Linked DNA regions of Homo sapiens. The protein of the gene in region 2 purifies or fractionates together with the protein of the main gene of each other region. This does not show direct contact. Each region holds a gene or a part of one and is shown on either strand. Other genes may lie near its edges. The genes, in order: ARPC1A, CHURC1 and MTMR14.

Region 1 (4,229 bases), on a different chromosome or scaffold from region 2:
TAAAGACAGGGGTCTCCCTATGTTGTCCAGGCTGGTCTCAAACTCCTGGGCTCAAGTGATCTGCCCACTTCAGCCTCCCAAAGTGTTAAGATTGCAAGCATGAGCCACCATGCCCGGCCCCCACCCCTTTTCTTTATCTATCACTGAGTACAGAGTCATTCTGATGTATGGCTAGCCATGGGCTCTGAAGCCGAGGCTGGGTTTGAACCCTGGCTTTTGACACACACTAGCTATGAAACCCTGGGCAAGTCACTTGATATCTCTAAATCTCATTTTTTTCTTCTGTAAAGTGGATATACCACTGAGATCACAAGGAGAATTAAATGAGACATGTGAAAGCAAGTAGTACAGAGCCTAGCCTGAAATACATGCCAGCAGGTTCCCTTTCTCCCTTTGACCCAAGGCTTTTCTATTTTTTAAATGGAGTTTTGCTCTTGTTGCCTAGGCTGGAGTGAAATGGTGTGATCTCAGCTCACCGCAACCTCCGTCTCCCGGGTTCAAGCGATTCTCCAGCCTCAGCCTCCTGAGTAGCTGGGATTACAGGCACGTGCCACCATGCCTGGCTAATTTTGTATTTTTAGTAGAGACGGGGTTTCTCCATGTTGGTCAGGCTGGTCTCAAACTCCTGACCTTGGTGATCCACCCGCCTCAGCCTCTCAAAGTGTTGGGATTACAGGCGTGAGCCACTGCACCTGGCCAACTCAAGGCTTTTAAACCAACCATAGAACCCACCAGTTAGTTTCCTCTGAGCTTGGAAACGTTGACATATGCTATAAATTCTTGGCCCTACTCCTTTGGAGCTTGAAAATGCCCACAAAAGTGGGCATTTCTGTCCCCTGTTTAGGGTCAGTTTTCAAGACCGTGATTCACCTAGTTCCTAATCACTCTCATTAGCCAATCTAGCAACATCAAGTACTCCAACAAGGTCACCACACCCTCCTCAACATTCAGACAGGCTCCAGTCCAGGCACCAGCCTCACCAGCAGACCATTTTAAACTTCTTTATATAGGATTTGTTTCAGCATTGGATGAGACAACTAGATCAAAGTATCACCACTCCGCGTCCAAAATAGGAGTTTTCCGAAATGGTCCCTTCCTTTAACTGTGATTAACAGATGAACTCCAGAAGATCTCTGAATACTTTGTGGGAGAAAATAGCCATATAAGCTGGGTGTGGTGTCTCACACCCAAAATCCCAGCACTTTGGGAGGTCGAGGTGGGAGGATAGCTTGAGCTTAGGAGCTCCAGACCAGCTTGGGCCACATATGGAGACCCTGTCTTTACAAAAAATACAAAAAAAAAAAAAAAATTAGCCAGGCGCAGTGGCTCATGCCTGTAGTCACAGCTACTCGGGAGGCTGAGGCAGGAGAATCGCTTGAACCCAGGAGGTGGAGGTTGCAGTGAGCCAAGATCACACCACTGCACTCCAGTCTGGGTGACAGAGTGAGACTCTATCTCCAAAAATAAGTAAATAAAAATAAATGAAAATTAGCCCAGTGTGGTGGCACACGCCTGTAGTCCCAGCTACTCAGGAGGCTGAGGTGGGAGGATCTGTTAAGCCCAGGAGGTCGAGGCTGCAGGAAAAAAAAAAAAAAGGAAGACAACAACCACAGTTACCCACTCCCTAACAGGACAAAAACACCTTCCTGACTGATGCCCCTCCTCTGTTTTTAGATACCTGAAAACCCAGGCCCTATGTGAAACCACAAGACTAGATAAAATTGAGGAGAGAGGGCAGAACTAAGATAATCTCGGCAATTTAAGCTACGAGTTGACATAGACAGAAGGTTCCAAAGCTGCAGGAGAACAGATGGCTTTATAATCAAAGATTCTAAGCTATAACTGATTAAGTGCCTATCATGTTCCCAGCAGTGTTGTAAATACCGGGATGGGGCTAGAAACATAAATAAGGCTGACACCATTCTGGTCTTCAAGTCTGGAGGGTTGGTGTTTGGGGAGAGTGGAGGAGATAGAAAAGGAAAGGAAGACGGATATGCATAGAATGCCCAGAAGCAGTAATAATAGCTAATATTTATTGATCACCTACTCTCGGCCAGGAACTATTCTAAGCAATTTATGCAAATAAGCTCACTTGATTCTTAGCAAAACGGTAAGAATCTTTTTATTGCAGATGAGGAAACAGGCGCAGAGAAGCATCTTCCCAGGATCACTCAACAAAGTGGTGGTGCCAGGACTGGCATAAAAGATTCCACTAAATGAATAAGAGCGCCGAGAAGGGTGCAATTTTGACTTGGGGGAAGGCGGTACTCATGCAGGGAAATCTTAAAAGAACTCGGGAGAAGGTTTTTCTCGAGATCGAGAAGGTTCCCCATTAACCGAAGGATTGAGGGCTGCCCTAGAGAGCAGGCAAACATCCTATGGGCGCCTACTGTATGCAGGGATCGACTCTAGACACTAAAGAGATGAATAGTCCCGCGGGTCGCTCGATTACGGGAGATCCTCCTACTTGACACAATTTTAGAGACGGTGACAAATGCCCCCAGCAGAGGTGCAAGTAGGACCCTGGGGGCGCAGAAGGGGCCGTTAATTCGGGCATCGGAGGCGGCTAGGAGCTCGAACATCCTGAGAAAAGCTGCAGGGGATCCACGGAGAAAGGGGATCCCCGCCCCCTCAGGAGGCCCCGGCAGGGAGACCCGGCCGCGCCTCAGCCTCGGGGCCCCGCGGCCTGAGCCCCCGTCTCACTGCCCCCGCGGCAAGTCCGGCGCCAGGCCTGGACAAGAGAGGCCGACAGGGTGAGACGCTCGCCCCTGCTGGCCGTTACCTGGGATCGGGGGAGTCCGGACGGGCTCGGAGCGGAGGATTCGCGGACTCTGGGCAGTCGACGCGAACAGGCTCCGTCGGGCGCGGGCGGAGGACGGAAGCCCAGAGGGAGCGGCTGACAGATCCCGGAAGTGGACACGGCGCCTGCGCGTTGCGACCGCGCGGACGGTCCGCGCATGCGCACAGCTCGGGCGCGCAGTCCGGGGTTAGGCAGGCTGCAGTGGAGGAGGGTACGCCGTTCCATTGGCGTGGTACTGTCGGCGGCCCTTCAGAGGAGATGCTGCCCCACGGAACGCCTGGCAAGTGCTGGCGAAGCGGCATGGGCGTCCCACTCCGTTCCTCAACCAATTTCCTCACAATCGCGAGCCGAAGTGTGGCGCTTTGGCAGTTTCGCAAGGTCTTTTGTCAGGAGATGAGTTACTGAGGATTGGGGGTCTTTGGAGCTCTTGGACCTGAAGAACGATTAAGTTTTTCTCCCTTCAGAGAGCCAAGGTCAGAGCCAGTCTACCTCAGCGCTGCTCCCTGCAGGGAGCCTCCGCCCCCGCCGTGCTCCCTCTGTGGAAAGCCCCTGAAGCCCCCCAGGAACTTTCTCGACCCTTCCTGGGACAGAATCCCCTGCTCCCAAGCAGTTCCCTGCTCCCAAGATGGCGCAGCAGGGATAAAAGGGTTGGGGGAACTTGGCAAGGCCCCCAATTCACAGAGGACAGAGCCTGCCCCGCAGATGCAGCCTCCAAGAAATGCCCTGATCCCCACCTGCAATCAGGCTGCTGCCCTTGAACCCTAGAAATTCTGGAGCATCCCCAGCCCCCACAGATGGGGCTAATCGAGAGCTTTTCTTTTTTCTTTTTTTTTAGACAGGTTCTCAACCTGTAGCCCAGGCTGGAGTGCAGTGGCGCGATCATAGCTAACTGCAGCCTGGAACCCCTGGGCTCAAGCGATCCTCCCGCCTCAGCCCCCCGTGGAGCTGGGACTACAAGTGCACACCACCACGCCTGGCTAATTTTTATTTTTTGGTAGAGACAGGGTCTTGCTGTGTTGCTTAGGCTGGTCTTGAACTCCTGGGCTCAAGCGATCGTCCCTCTTTGGCCTCTCAAAGCCCTCAGATTACAGGTGTGAGCCACTGTGCCTGGCTAATTTTTATATTTTTTGTAAAGATGAGGTTTTCCTATGTTGTCCAGGCTGGTCTTGAACCCCTGGGCTCAAGCAATCCTCTAGCCTCTGCTTCCCAAAGCGATGTGAGCTCCCCCCCGCCGCCGCCCAGCGCCATGCCAGGCCAACCAAGGGCTTGTCTCCTTCCCTTTGGTATTGTAAGGTGAGGTTTATGTAGGTATACTTGTCAAACTCTCAATTTCAGACCCGCTGTGATCTTTTTGAGACGGAGCCTTTCTCTGTCGCCCAAGCTGGAGTGCAGTGGCGCGATCTCGGCTCACTGTAACCTCCGCCTCCCG
Region 2 (3,649 bases):
GTGAAAACTCACATGGATGACCCTAAGGTCACAATAATAACAATAATAAAAAGTATATCTTGTTAAGGCAGCATAAAGCTTTTAAAAATATGTCCGTGAAAAATAATTTGATAAACAAAAAAAATTCAGTTCCTGAATCGTAAGCTTTAGTTATCTGCAAAAGTCATTTACATAGACTATTTGATATCCCAGATAAATGAGGTGTTAATGACATTTTCCTCTTAAAGACCTAACTAGTAATTATGTGCGCAATACAATATTGAAATAGGCCTCAGAATATTTTGTGTAACATATCGACTTCCAAAAGCTGACACCTGCTAACACACTCAGGTTAAAAAATAAAGTCTACTTACGATCATAGGTAACTATTTCTTCTCCATCTTCTTCTTTCAAGGATTTGTTTGTGATCAGCATAAAATCCCGCTTACTGCACACTGCACAGCCTGTAAAGTTCAGTAAGAAAGATCCATTCTCCAGGCAGGTATTACCCTAAAATATCAGAAACAGGAATTTAATTTCTTTACATTTCAAAATCTTTAGTGAAGATGATTAACAGACTTAAAATGTCTAAAGGCAAAACAAAACTAAAAAATGGCCAGCATTTACTTCTAGGTCATATACCAAATAATTTTTGAAATTACTAGCTTTCCTAAAGAAGTGTTACTCATGTTAAAAAAAAAAAAAAAAAAAAAGCAACTAAAGTGCAGTGTTAGATCCTTAAGTCTGTAAGGACTGCCACTATGTTGAAAAGGGAGGATAAACTGAAAATAGATATTTAGAAACAACTTAAGGAAACCTTAATATAAAATATGAAAATAGAAAATTAGAAAAATTTAATAACCAACAATATTAAACGAGGCTTACCAACTAAAATTAAATTCAATCAAAATAGAAACTGAGTCAATGATAAAGATGATCTTACATAGATGTTTAGTTGTTTGTTCAAATAGTTTTGATCCTTGATCATAATACAAAATAAACAAAAGTAAACTCTCAGCTCTATAGATGTCAGTCCTTAAGGATACACATGATTGAGGCAGAGAAGCTTAAGTTCTTCATTTCGTAAGACTGACACAATGGCATTTAAGAGAGAATGGGTTTTACATCTTTACTAAGAAACTATACAAATTTTCAAAAAAAGTTTTTAAAAAAGAAATTCTAAATAACTTATGCTCCTGGCTCAAAGGAAGCCTTTTTTTTTTTTTTGGTAATTGAGATGGGGTCTTGCTATGTTGCCCAGGCTGGTCTCAAACTCCTGGGCTCAAATGATCTTCCCACCTCAGCCTCCCAAGTATTGGGATTACAGTTGTGAGCCACCGTCCCCGACCCAAAGGAAGTCTTTGCTAAAGGCTAATAATTAATAATTAAAAGTCACTTTATAAATAATCTAGTCCAATCCCATTTCTCAGCAACACACTTAAAGAGTATTTTTAAATAATGTGATTAAAAATCACTCAAATCAACGTTTCTCCAGTGCATCTGTGTCTGATATTGTGCAAAGCACAACAGAGGATTCAAAGATGAGCCAAACATGTTGCTACCTTCAAGGAGTTTTAAGAAGCATCAGCGAAATTAAGATCCACCATAAATAATGCCACTAGGAAGTCTTTCTGGATTCCAAGCACCAGAATTAATCTCTCCCTTCTATGTATTGAGGAAGAGATTAATTCTGGTGGGAGAATTAATCTCTCCCTTCTATATATTGAGGAATCTCTCCCTTCTATGTATTGAGGAAGACATTAATTCTAGTGGGAGAAATCAAGACATTACTACATAGTTATTAAATCATAGGTGTACTGCCTTAACTACTAAAAGGGAAAAGGGCCTTAGGATTAAAGTATACATTTCCAGTTATTAAGAACAAATGCTTTGCTTTGATTTTTTTTTTTTTTTTTTTTTTTTGAGACGGAGTCTCGCTCTGTCACCCAGGCTGAAGTGCAGTGGCACACTCTCGGCTCACTGCAAGCTCCACCTCCCAGGTTCATGCCATTCTCCTGCTTCAGCTTCCCAAGTAGCTGGGACTACAGGTGCCCGCCACCACGCCCTGCTAATTTTTCGTATTTTTAGTAGAGATGGGGTTTCACTATGCTAGCCAGGATGGTCTCGATCTCCTGACCTCGTGATCTGCCCGTCTCGGCCTCCCAAAGTGCTGGGATTACAGGAATGAGCCACTGTGCCCAGCCTTTGATTTTTTTTTTAATAAAATCTACTGAGGTACAATTTACATACAATAAAATTCACACACTGTAAGGGTATACATAGGTGAATGACTTTTAACCAATGTATATACCCATGTAACCACTACCCTAGTGAAGGTATAAAACATTTCTATCCACCCCAAAAAGTTCCTTCATGCTTTTCAGTCTATCTCTAACCTCCATCCCACCCCAGACACCCACTGATCTGATTTCCATCTCCAGTCTTGCACGTTCTAGAATTTTATATAAACAGAATCAGTATACTCCCGCATCCAATTTTCCTTGCTCGATATAATGCCTATGTTCATCATCACTGTTGTTCTAGGTACTGGTAGTTTGTTGCTTTTCATTGCCAAATAGTATTCCCTGTAGGATTCAGCTGTTGGTAGATATTTGGGTTGTTTCCATTTGGGGCTATTATGAATAAAGCAGCTATAGAGATTCATGTGCAAGTCTTGGATGGATACATGTCTTCCTTTCCCTTGGGTAAATATGTAGAAGTGGAATTGCTAATATGGTAAAAATATGGTATATTTAACTTTACAAGAAACTGCCAAATGGTTTTCCAATTTACATTCCTGCCAGCAATGTGTGAGTTCCAGTTGCTCTATAGCTACATCAATACTAGGTACTGCTTTTTATTTTTGCCATTCAGTGACGTAAAGTGGTATCTCATTGTAGTTTTAACTTTTGTTTCCTTGATGACTAATGATGTTGAGCATCTTTTCATGGTGCTTATTCATGTATCTTCTTTTATGAAATGTCCATTCAAGTCTTTTGCCCATTTTCAAAAAGTTAGGTTGTTTATTTTGAGTTGTAAGAGTTCTTTATATATCTTAGATACAAGTTTTTTCCCAAATATATTTTCTCCGTCATTGATTTGCCTTTTTTGATGGTTTCTTCTAATGAGCAAACAAGTTTTGATTTTCATAAAGTCCAATTTAACATTTTTTCTTTTATAATTTATACTTTTTTTCTCCTAAGACATCTCTGCCTACCCCAGGGTTGCACAAAGTTTCTTACATTTTTTTCTAGAAGTTTTATAGCTTTTAGTTTGTAGATTTAGGTTTATAATCCATTTTGAAATAATTTTATATATGAGGTAAGGATCAAGGTTTATTTAGTTGCGTATGGATTTCCAGTTGTTTTGGCAAGATTTGTTGAAGAACTGTCTTTCCCCCCACTGAATTACAATGGTGCTTTTGTAGAAAAAAGTCAATGACCATATATATGTGGGTCTGCTTTGACTATTCTGTTCCCTTGATACATATATCTACCTTCCCACTAATATCAAACTCTCTTGATTACTATAGTTTTTATAGTTAGTCTTTAAATCAGGTAGTTTATGTCCTATAATCTGGCTATTCTTGGTTCTTTTCAGTTTCATGTAAATTTTAACATGAGCTTACACACTTTACAAAAAAGTCTACTGGAGTTTGAATTGGGACTGC
Region 3 (3,649 bases), on a different chromosome or scaffold from region 2:
TTTCCATGTGGTACAGACCATGCAAAGGAGCTTTTCTAAAATATCCTGTAGTATTGTTTTCTAAAAACATTTGGAAAGCGGATAGCAAGAGTGTGAACCAGCCCATTTCCTCCTTTTATAGGGACTCAAACTCCTGTTCTGTACCAAGCTCTTCTTATGTGTAGTACCAATCATGCAGCTGTGACACATCTGGTCTCCAAATGTGCCTTCCAGGCTAGACCTCATGTCTCCTATGTATGGACTGTAGCCCTTGCCCTGTGCCTCAGTACCAGCTGTACTGGGTGAGATCTGGCAGGTTGGTAATCAGCATCATAGCTGCAAACTGGCAACTCTGTGGGGCTTTAAAACAAATATAGATGTCTGGGCCCTATCTCGGGCCTGCAGTACCAGGAACCCCAAGAGTGGGATGTTCTCTGTGAATCCAGGTGTGCAGTCAAGATGGGGACAGACTGCTCAGGTATTTGGCTGCTACCCAGTGGACTTCAACAGCCATATTTCAGGGGCACAGACTTGGCAGACAGAAGAGGAAGAAGCCAATCCACTCACCTGAACCAGTGACAAATACCCACGGACAATATGAACATGGCCATCTCTGGCCAGACACCCCATCCCCAACACAAGCCCCTGACCACAGCAACCCAGCACTGACCGAAGAGCACAGTCCTCCTCCGTGACGTCCTCCACATCTGCCCAGGCATCATCTGCACCCCCTGCCAGAGAAACCTATCTGTCAGTACTGAGGCTGGTGACCCAGGGCTCCACACAGGGGCCTCCTCACCAGCCTCCTTCCCCATAGTGCCAAGGGTGGGCTGGGACTACATGGCTCTACTCCTAAGGACACAGTATGCCCCCATATGCCTGGTAGTCTTCACCTCTAAGGTGAACTCCTGTTTGTCTCCTGGTCCCTGATCAAAGGAAGGCCCCTGATCTCCACCCAGCTCACTCAGACCCCCTACCTATACTATTGTGGTCATGGGTGGCTATTCTTTTTTTTTTTTTTTTGAGACGGAGTCTCACTCTGTTGCCCAGGCTGGAGTGCAGTGGCGTGATCTCGGCTCACTGCAACCTCCATCTCCCGGGTTCAAGCGATTCTCCTGCCTCAGCCTCCTGAGTAGCTGGGACTACAGGTGTGCATCACCACACCCGGCAAATTTTTGGTATTTTTTAGTAGAGATGGGGTTTCACCGTGTTAGCCAGGATGGTCTCGAACTCCTGACCTCGGGATCCGCTCGCCTTGGCCTCCCAAAGTGTTGAGATTACAGGCGTGAGGCATGGCGCCCGGCCCGGGTAGCTATTCTCTATGACTGGGTTCTCATTCTACATCAGAGGATGCTGTTCAACATTCACCTGAGAAAAAATAGTTGTAGCCTGAGCGTCCATACAGCTCTCCCCATCCAGCCAGTGTGGCCGACCTGCAAATGTGCTGGGAGAGAAACATCATTTTCACGGTCAGATGGTTTTCTGAAGCATGCACAGTTGAAGGAACATGTGGGACTCCTCTGACTCTTCCAGGCCAGCATAACGGGCCCAGGAGCACTCCCCAAAGTTTTATCAGCATCAAGGCTGCCACAATCAGTCAGAAGATCCCTAGTACTTAATCCACAACCTCTACTGAGGGAGTCTCACTCCCAAACAAGAGGCGCCAGTGTTACCAACAGGATCGGATCAGATTGGGTGGTTGTTGCATGTGTACCACGTGCTGGACATGGTACTGAAAAACCCATCATCTTCTCACTGAATTTTACAACAAGCCCATGAGGGATATGTGGCAGGTGGCATGCATTGTTGCTGTTACACAGATGAAGAAAAGAAAAACAGGCTAAGGGAGGTTAAGTGATGTGTAAGGTCATATAATGAGGGGTGAGCTGGGATTTGATCCAAACCCACTGACCTCTATGTGCTTACTGTGATTTGGAACTGTTCAGTGTAGACAGGAACAACCTTTCTAGCGGGGGCAAGGGGTGAGTGAGAAATGTTTTAGAGGCTTCTTTTCCTCATCACTGAAGGGATCACTGTTAAGAGAATTCTAGAAACGGGCAACTGGCACAAACCTCAATATCTAATTGTAAGGTTACTTGTTTAAAATAAATAGTGTTTGCTGAAATCTAGTTGGGTGGGGGGAATGGGAGGAGATACCTGGTGATGGGAAGGCAAACCAGCCCAGAATTTAGCTAAAGGCTAGGAGAACATGACCCTGTTACACTACAATGGGAAATGGCGAAGTTGTGAGGTGACAGACAGGGAGTGAAGCTCACTGCTGAATGGGTAACACAATGTGCAAATGGAAAGTGGATCCCTGGAAGATTGCCAAGTACCATCTGAAGGCTTCTCCATCTCTACCTGTAAGATAATGGGAAGGAAAGTTTTGCTGCTACAGCAAAGAGTTGTGCGTGGGAACGACTAGGTCACTTTCTGGCTCTATCTGAGGTAGCAGCAGACAAGGGGTGGGGACGTGGGGACAGCAATAGAAAAGCTACCTGGATATAACCTGGGACAGAATGAGGGGCATTATTGGTGCTGGGGCAAGAGCTGGTTTGTGGAGAGGCTGTCCTGGAAGCCTACTGAGGAAGCCTACCAAGGGCTGGCATTCCTGCTGGCTTAAGTAGGATGTACTCCAGTGGGGGCCACTTAACTTTCTGTGGGTCTAAAAGCAATTTGAAAATCTGATAAAAAAGTATGAACTATCTCCTGAAAAAAAAAATATGTACACATCATAATCTACTTACATTTCCAGGGATTTCTGGACTCTCTCAAGTCCACTGATGAACCCATTCCCAGACCCCGTTAAAAGCCCTTGCTTTAAGAAGTCAGTCAAGCAGTGAGGAGTAAAGTGGATGCTTCCACAGGAAAGGGCTGAGGACCTCTAAGACTCCAAGACGTTGGCAGGGTGTGTGGCTGCCTGTTCCACTGGCATTTGTATCATATCCACTCTCCCCGCTTCATCTAAGCTGCTGGCAGCTGACCTCACTCTCCTTTGCATTATTTCTGTTAAATCTTTCAGAGCAGATAGCTGCCTTCTTTTTGGCTGTTGAGTTCTGAGACCCTTTTTCTGTTCCCAATTATTCTTCCACATCCCTTCTATTGACCTTGTCTTTTTAGTAATTGAGGCAGCCAGACCTAGGCCAGCAAAACCCGAGTCAGATGGAGAAAAACAAGTTGGCCAAGTCCCCAAGTGGGGAACCAGCCTCTTCAGGAAGGCCCCTGTGGGAGGGCTGACCCCTCTTGATAGACACCTGTTCCTTTGCCTCATGGTTCTGACTCATAACCCATCATCTCTGCCCTTTAAGCTGGCTCCTGACTGAAAACGCAAGATCTACCCTGAATGCTCTCCATTTACCTAGTTAGGAATGGCCTCTAATACGGTCCGTGGAAAAGCACTCTGTATAATTTTCTAATTTAGTAACCTCTGACCTCTGCTCCCCACCTCTTAAACAAAAAGAAAGATGAATTGTTCCAGTTTCAATGGTCTAAAAGCCAGACTCAAGTGTTTGGGGAGAAAATGGTATGAGAACTTACTGTTCAATGCTTGAACTGAGTTTTGAAAAATTATTTAATATACTTTACTTAACCCATCATATCCAAGACATTATGTCAACATGTAATCACTTTTAAAATGAATATTTTACATTTTTTCTATTAAATCTTCAAA

Evidence for each region.
Region 1: the proteins of CHURC1 (region 2) and ARPC1A purify together in Homo sapiens (affinity purification with mass spectrometry, with the first as the bait; one large-scale study listed by BioGRID). This does not show direct contact.
Region 3: the proteins of CHURC1 (region 2) and MTMR14 purify together in Homo sapiens (affinity purification with mass spectrometry; one large-scale study listed by BioGRID and IntAct). This does not show direct contact.

What each region holds. Positions count from the first base shown.
Region 1 is NC_000007.14:99,324,558-99,328,786, reverse strand, and holds the start of ARPC1A (actin-related protein 2/3 complex subunit 1A), read right to left. Parts: upstream 2,890-4,229; 5' UTR 2,783-2,889; intron 1-2,782. UniProt on the Homo sapiens protein: Probably functions as a component of the Arp2/3 complex which is involved in regulation of actin polymerization and together with an activating nucleation-promoting factor (NPF) mediates the formation of branched actin networks.
Region 2 is NC_000014.9:64,920,831-64,924,479, reverse strand, and holds part of CHURC1 (protein Churchill), read right to left. Parts: intron 490-3,649; coding exon 354-489; intron 1-353. Other genes in the region: CHURC1-FNTB protein, read right to left, coding at 354-489. UniProt on the Homo sapiens protein: Transcriptional activator that mediates FGF signaling during neural development. Plays a role in the regulation of cell movement.
Region 3 is NC_000003.12:9,666,493-9,670,141, reverse strand, and holds part of MTMR14 (phosphatidylinositol-3,5-bisphosphate 3-phosphatase MTMR14), read right to left. Parts: intron 1,424-3,649; coding exon 1,348-1,423; intron 711-1,347; coding exon 650-710; intron 1-649. UniProt on the Homo sapiens protein: Lipid phosphatase that specifically dephosphorylates the D-3 position of phosphatidylinositol 3-phosphate and phosphatidylinositol 3,5-bisphosphate, generating phosphatidylinositol and phosphatidylinositol 5-phosphate.